Linked DNA regions of Homo sapiens: region 2 is linked to region 1. The links come from fine-mapping of genetic effects on gene expression. A gene starts in region 1. The other region holds a variant in brackets. All regions are shown on one strand. Distances are from middle to middle.

Region 1 (2,923 bases):
TAAATAAATAAAGAGAAACAAGCTGAAATACTCCTTTTTCTTACTCTCCACCAGGAGCTGCTTTCCTCTGATGCTCCAACATACATGTATGTTTTTGCTGGTACTGGCTGGAACTGGCAAAGCAACAGTTCATGCCAATCTCTTCTCTTGGCCTGTTCAGGATAAACAATGTTGGGTTCAGATAAAGCTATCTCTACCCAACATTAATTTGTAGCATGTTCAGAGTCTCCTCGAAAGATTTATATATAAAAATGGCTACTGTGGGGCCACTCTACTTACTCCCTCCCATCAGCTTTCTCTTTCTGAATCAGATCCTGCAGGGATAACTCAGAAATTATTAACACCTAGTAGGGGGAGGATAGGTCAGTGTGGTATTCTAGCCAGGGATGAAAGGCAACAAAATTCCTAATTTTCAAACATTTTACCAATGATGGCAACATAGGCGACAATATATCAATCATGATGAGGCTTCCAGGAAGATATTGGAAAGCCTCATGCACCACTCACTTGGTTAGCCACAAATCCAAGCCAGGACCAGGGGCACCCTGGCCCACCAACTGGCTCATCAGAAGACAAGATTCAGGTGGTGGGAGCTCTTAGTGAAAGGAGGAAGGAGGATACAACAGGGCACTCAGCCCCTGCTTCATAAAGGGATTCTCTTTGGACAATAAATGTCCTACACCTTCCTGCAAGTTCATATATATATATACACACACACAGTTCATATATATATATATATAAACACAGTTCATATATATATATATAAACACAGTTCATATATATATATAAACACAGTTCATATATATATATAAACACAGTTCATATATATATATAAACACAGTTCATATATATATATAAACACAGTTCATATATATATATAAACACAGTTCATACACACACACACACACACACACACACACACACACACAGGAATAGTTTAAGAGCTCACCCCCTCTTCTCCTCTTTTTTTTTTTAACCTTTTCTTAAAGGAGTCTACCTCCTTCCTCTTCACCTACTAAATTTTCTACGGAAAATAGAGAAGAGCAGGACTGGAATAACACTACTGCTCCCTCAATACTACAGAAATCTGTATCCTGATGTTCTGTTTAGGGCAAAGGATATGAAATCAGTGAGGCAAAGCAGCCACCTCAGGAATTAGTACTGCAGGTCTTAAATGGGAGAAAATCGTTCAGCCACTTACAAGCTAGGTGATTCGACCTCAAGAGAGTTATTGAAACTCCCCAGACCTCAGTTTCTTGGTTTTGCAAAACGGGGATGAATTTAGTTCCCACCTCACAGGACTGTTGAGGACTGAGAAAATCCACGTAAAGTGCTAAATACAACTGCACAGCAAGAGCTAATTAAATATTAGTATTTAATAGTAGTAGTAGTAAAATTATTGTGTCTGCCTCCCCCAGTCACACCACCAGCAAAACTGGCACAACCCCCACTCCTACCTCGCAGGATATGGGGCCAAGCCATGGCTACACTACACTCTCGCATGCATGAGAGACCCCCAAACACCACAAGAGCTACTGTAGGTTCCCCTACCCCTCACTGGCCAGGGTCCCCCAGGCCACCGCTACGGTCCACACTGACCTGAAATGCCACCTCCGATCACGACTACGTCGAACATGTGGCCCGCGATACTCGCCTTCTCTTGATTCTCCATGCTTTGGCTGACACGCTCCTGGGTCGTAGGCACAGGAGTGGGGACGGCAAAGGGTGGGAAGGACCCTTCTATCAACTCCCCCGGGGAGCCCGGGGGCGGAGCCGATCCTTCTTTTGATACCCGGGGGGAGCCGGGCACTGTGGGCGGGGCGAACCCTTTTGCTGATACTCCGGGAGCGCCCAGGGGCGGAGCTGATGTTTCAGCTGATACCCGGGGGGAGCTGGGCACTGAGAGCGGGGCGGACCCTTGTACTGACACTCGGCGAGAGTTATTAGGTTTAGAATGTCCTTGTGTCGGCAGCTGGAAAGGATTACTGGGTGCAGGAGGTTCTTGTATTGAACCCCGCGGAGTGTCAGGCACTGAGGTGGGGGTAGACGCCTGCCTTGACACTGGGGGGATGTTATGGGGTGCAGGAGGTGCTTGTGGCGACACTGGGGAAATGTTATTGGGTAGAGGTGGTCCTGGTACCAAACCCCAGGGGAAGCTGGACACTGAGGATGCGGCAGACCCTTGTACTGACACTCGGGGGTGTTACTGGGTGTAGGAGGTGCTTGTATTGACACTTGCGAAAGGTCATTGGGTATAGGAGGTCCCCGTACAAATATCCAAGTGTAGTCGGACACTGAGGTCAGGTTGGAATCCGGGGGCAGGGTCGGTCCTTTTACCAAACCCCGTGGGGTGCTGAACCCTGAGGAGAAGGCAGACCCTTGCAATGACTCTACGGGGGAGTTTACGGGCGGGGTAGGTCCTGTTACTAATACCCAGGGAATGCCGGTGTCCTGATTGGAGGCTGTGACGGCCCCATCGGAGGAGTTCGAGCTGGTGGTAGACTTGGGGATCCGACTGCTCGGGTTGTAAGCGCTGAAACCCCGGAGGCCACTCTTGGAGTCGGAGTCAGTACTCTCGCTAAGACCGGTAGTGCTGATTGGGGAGTGTATGCTGGAGCTCCAGGAGGCGGCCTCGGCAGTTGAGGACGTGCTCCACTGGGAACTGGCTAGCGGATCCGAGACGGACCGCCACTCAGAACGGACGCTCCATTCGGACAGGCTGTAGGAGGTGTCGTCCAAGCTGGAGTCCGGGTTCGGGACCTGGGCAGTTGTGCCCCCGGCTTCGGGCGGGCCCTCCGCCTTGCGCTCGGTGCCGGTGCCGGTACTGGTGCGGGTACTGGTGCCGGTGCCGGTACTGGTGCGGGTACTGGTGCCGGTGCCGGTACTGGTGCGGGTACTGGTGCCGGTGCCGGTGCCGCCGGGG
Region 2 (2,923 bases), 72 kb before region 1:
TAGCAGAAATGGGGTTTCATCATGTTAGCCAGGCTGGTCTCAAACTCCTGTCCTCAGGTGATCCACCCTCCTTGGCCTCCAAAAGTGCTGGGATTACAGGTGTGAGCCACCGCGCCCAGCCAGAAGATTCCTAACAGATTCCTCAATCATACTCCTCCAGAAAACTGCATAAGCAGCCACGCAGTGATTTTTGCACTTTTGTAACTGGCTACTGTTTTAATAACAACACCAAAGTTCTTTATAAAAAATATTCCTGGCTAGGCATGGTGGCTCATGCCTGTGATCTTAGCACTTTGAGAGGCTGAGGCGGAAGGACTGCTTGAGCCCAGGAGTTGGAGACCAGGCTAGGCAACAAAGCAAGACTCTGTCTCAAAAATTAAATTAAAAAAAGGAAAAAAAATTCCCAGAGTGGTTCAGACCTAAATTCATGATTTGTCTTTCCTCAAGAAACCCAGACCATTTAACTTATAATCTGGTCTGTTTTCTAAGAGGTACTTTGAGTTTTAGTGTGGTGGAAAGACCACGAACTGTTTCTGTCTTGTTCACTGTCCACCCCTCCAGGTCTAGTATTTGTTGAATTAAATTACAGGATAAGCCTAAGTTCTTTATAAAAATATTGTGACCATGGTTTGAGATTAATCATCTGAACCATATTTTCCAAAAGGTCATGTAGAATTTGGCTAGAAGTATCCTGGCTCCTCTGAATGAAGGAAACAAATATCAAATGTAAATCAAAATACCTCAGAAAGTAAAATACTGGCTAAAAGGAGTAATCTGTCATCTCTGCCTGTAGGTAAAGACATTTAAAAAATGCAACTGTCCTGCATTTGTCAAGGCTAAGGGTCAAATGGGCAATGAGTCTTGGTGTCACAAGAACTTGGGGATTTCCGGTGATCTCCTCAGGAGAAGAATAATTCACTTGGCAGAGAAAGACTCTATACCTTGTACTGTGCACTCAGAATTCAGGAACTCAGAGAACCTAAGTTAGAAGTAAACTGCTACTAATTAAACCTCATACCATCCAAGCACAACATTTATAGAACAGAGATACCCATTCTCTTTGGATAACAGAAAGGGTTGAAGCAGAGAATCTCAGAGTCTGGGGAATTAGGATTCTGGCTTCGCCATGTGTCCAGCCAATGAACGAAATGAATTCACTTATTAATAAAGGAAATGATATGGAAACTGGGCAAATTCAAGTGGGTAGCAAAAACTAAGAATCCAAAAGGCAGAATTTACTATTGCAAGAGTGGCCATAATCACTTGCGT[G/A]AATTAGAAGGAAGAACAGTCACTTCCCTTCTGTAGCAGTTAACATAAAAGAATCACTCTGATAAACAGATGGGACAGAAACCTTGTGTCTAGAACAGAGATGATTTTAAGTACAATAATTGTACAATTTCTAGAATTTTTTGGAAATTATTTTAGGAATTTAGCTTCTCCTACATAAACAGCCTAATTTTACCTGCTACCAAAAGGAAGGAACTTAATTCTCAAAACCTAATTAATTCAAAATGAAACATTCTTTATCTGTGAACTCCTTTTCAGGAGTGACAAAAGGAAATGAGAAATTTTTTTTTCAGAAAATCTTTTGAGATCATTTCATGCTGCTAATTATTCATGTTTCAAAATCCTGAAGCAACTATTAAAGACACTGCCCTGGGAGAAAGCAAAATCACAGATGAAGCTCTTGTTTCAGAACAGACACATACACACCATACCTGGCCACCATTGGTGACAGAGAATATCCGAGTGGTGCCCCCGCACTGCTTCACATACCACAAGAACCACAGGGCAGACACTTCGTGAGGCTCAGAGGTCACATTGATATTCACAAAAAGATAAGCAAACCGCCTAGCAGTCCTGTTCATAGAACAAAAGTGGAAGTCAGGTGTCAATATGTACAGGAGTCAGAGAATGTCATGTTTTTACAACACGATTTAGTGTGTTCAGAAAGTTTTTCTGTTGCAATTGAAAAAAACTCTCAAGGATTCAATTTCTGAAGGAATGCATTCTTTAACTCTTGGAGAAACTAACATTTTCTCCTGCTTAAGAAATTATGAGTTGAAAAGGAGCCAAGGGTCCAGCAAGACAGCCAAACAGAAACAGCTCCGGTCTGCAGCTCCCAGTGAGATCCGCGCAGAAGGTGGGTGATTTCTGTGTTTCCAACTGAGGTACCTGGTTCATCTCATTGGGACTGGTTGGACAGTGGGTGCAGCTCATGGAGGGCAAGCCGAAGCAGGGCAGGGCATCGCCTCACCTGGGAAGTGCAAGCGGTTGGGGGATTTCCTTTTCCTAGCCAAGGGAAGCTGTGAGAGACTGTCCCAGGAAGAACGGTACACTCTTGCGCAGATACTGCGCTTTTCCCACAGTCTTCACAACTGGCAGATCAGGAGATTCCCTCCGGTGCCTGGCTCAGTGGGTCCCACACCCATGGAGCCCAGCAAGCTAATATCCATTGGCTTGAAATCCTCGCTGCTAGCACAGCAGCCTGATATCGACCTGGAATGCTCGAGCTTGGTGTGGAGAGGTGCATCTGCCATTGCTGAGGCTTGAGTAGGCAGTTTTATGCTCACAGTGTAAACAAAGCCACCAGGAAGTTCGAACTGGGCGGACCCCACCACAGCTCAGCAAGGCCTACTGCCTCTCTAGATTCCACCTCTGTGGGCAGGGCATCTCTGAACAAAAGGCAGCAGCCCCAGTCAGGGACTTATAGATAAAACCCCCATCTCCTTGGGCCAGAGCACCTGGGGGAAGGGGCAGCTGGGGGTGCAGCTTCAGCAGACTTAAATGTCCCTGCCTGACAGCTCTGAAGAGAGCAGTGGTTCTCCCAGCACAGTGTTTGAGCTCTGATAACGGACAGACTGCCTCAAGTGGGCCCCGACCCCCGTGTAGCCTGACTGAGAGACACCTCCCAGTAGGGGCC

The links.
Region 2: its variant is fine-mapped to the expression of MAOA in blood mononuclear cells (TOPMed, PIP above 0.99). The same link has a PIP of 0.9 or more in T cells, monocytes and whole blood.

What each region holds. Positions count from the first base shown.
Region 1 is chrX:43,655,091-43,658,013 of GRCh38, reverse strand. It overlaps MAOA (monoamine oxidase A), which reads right to left and starts at 1,715. Exons shown (of 15, transcript NM_000240.4): 1 at 1,600-1,715. The coding sequence starts at 1,672. RefSeq lists an enhancer at 2,822-2,881 and a silencer at 2,813-2,923.
Region 2 is chrX:43,727,110-43,730,032 of GRCh38, reverse strand. It overlaps MAOA (monoamine oxidase A), which reads right to left. Exons shown (of 15, transcript NM_000240.4): 6 at 1,719-1,860. Among named protein-coding and RNA genes, the nearest start is that of MAOA, 72 kb to the right of the region's middle. The variant G/A (reference allele first, on the strand shown) is at 1,270.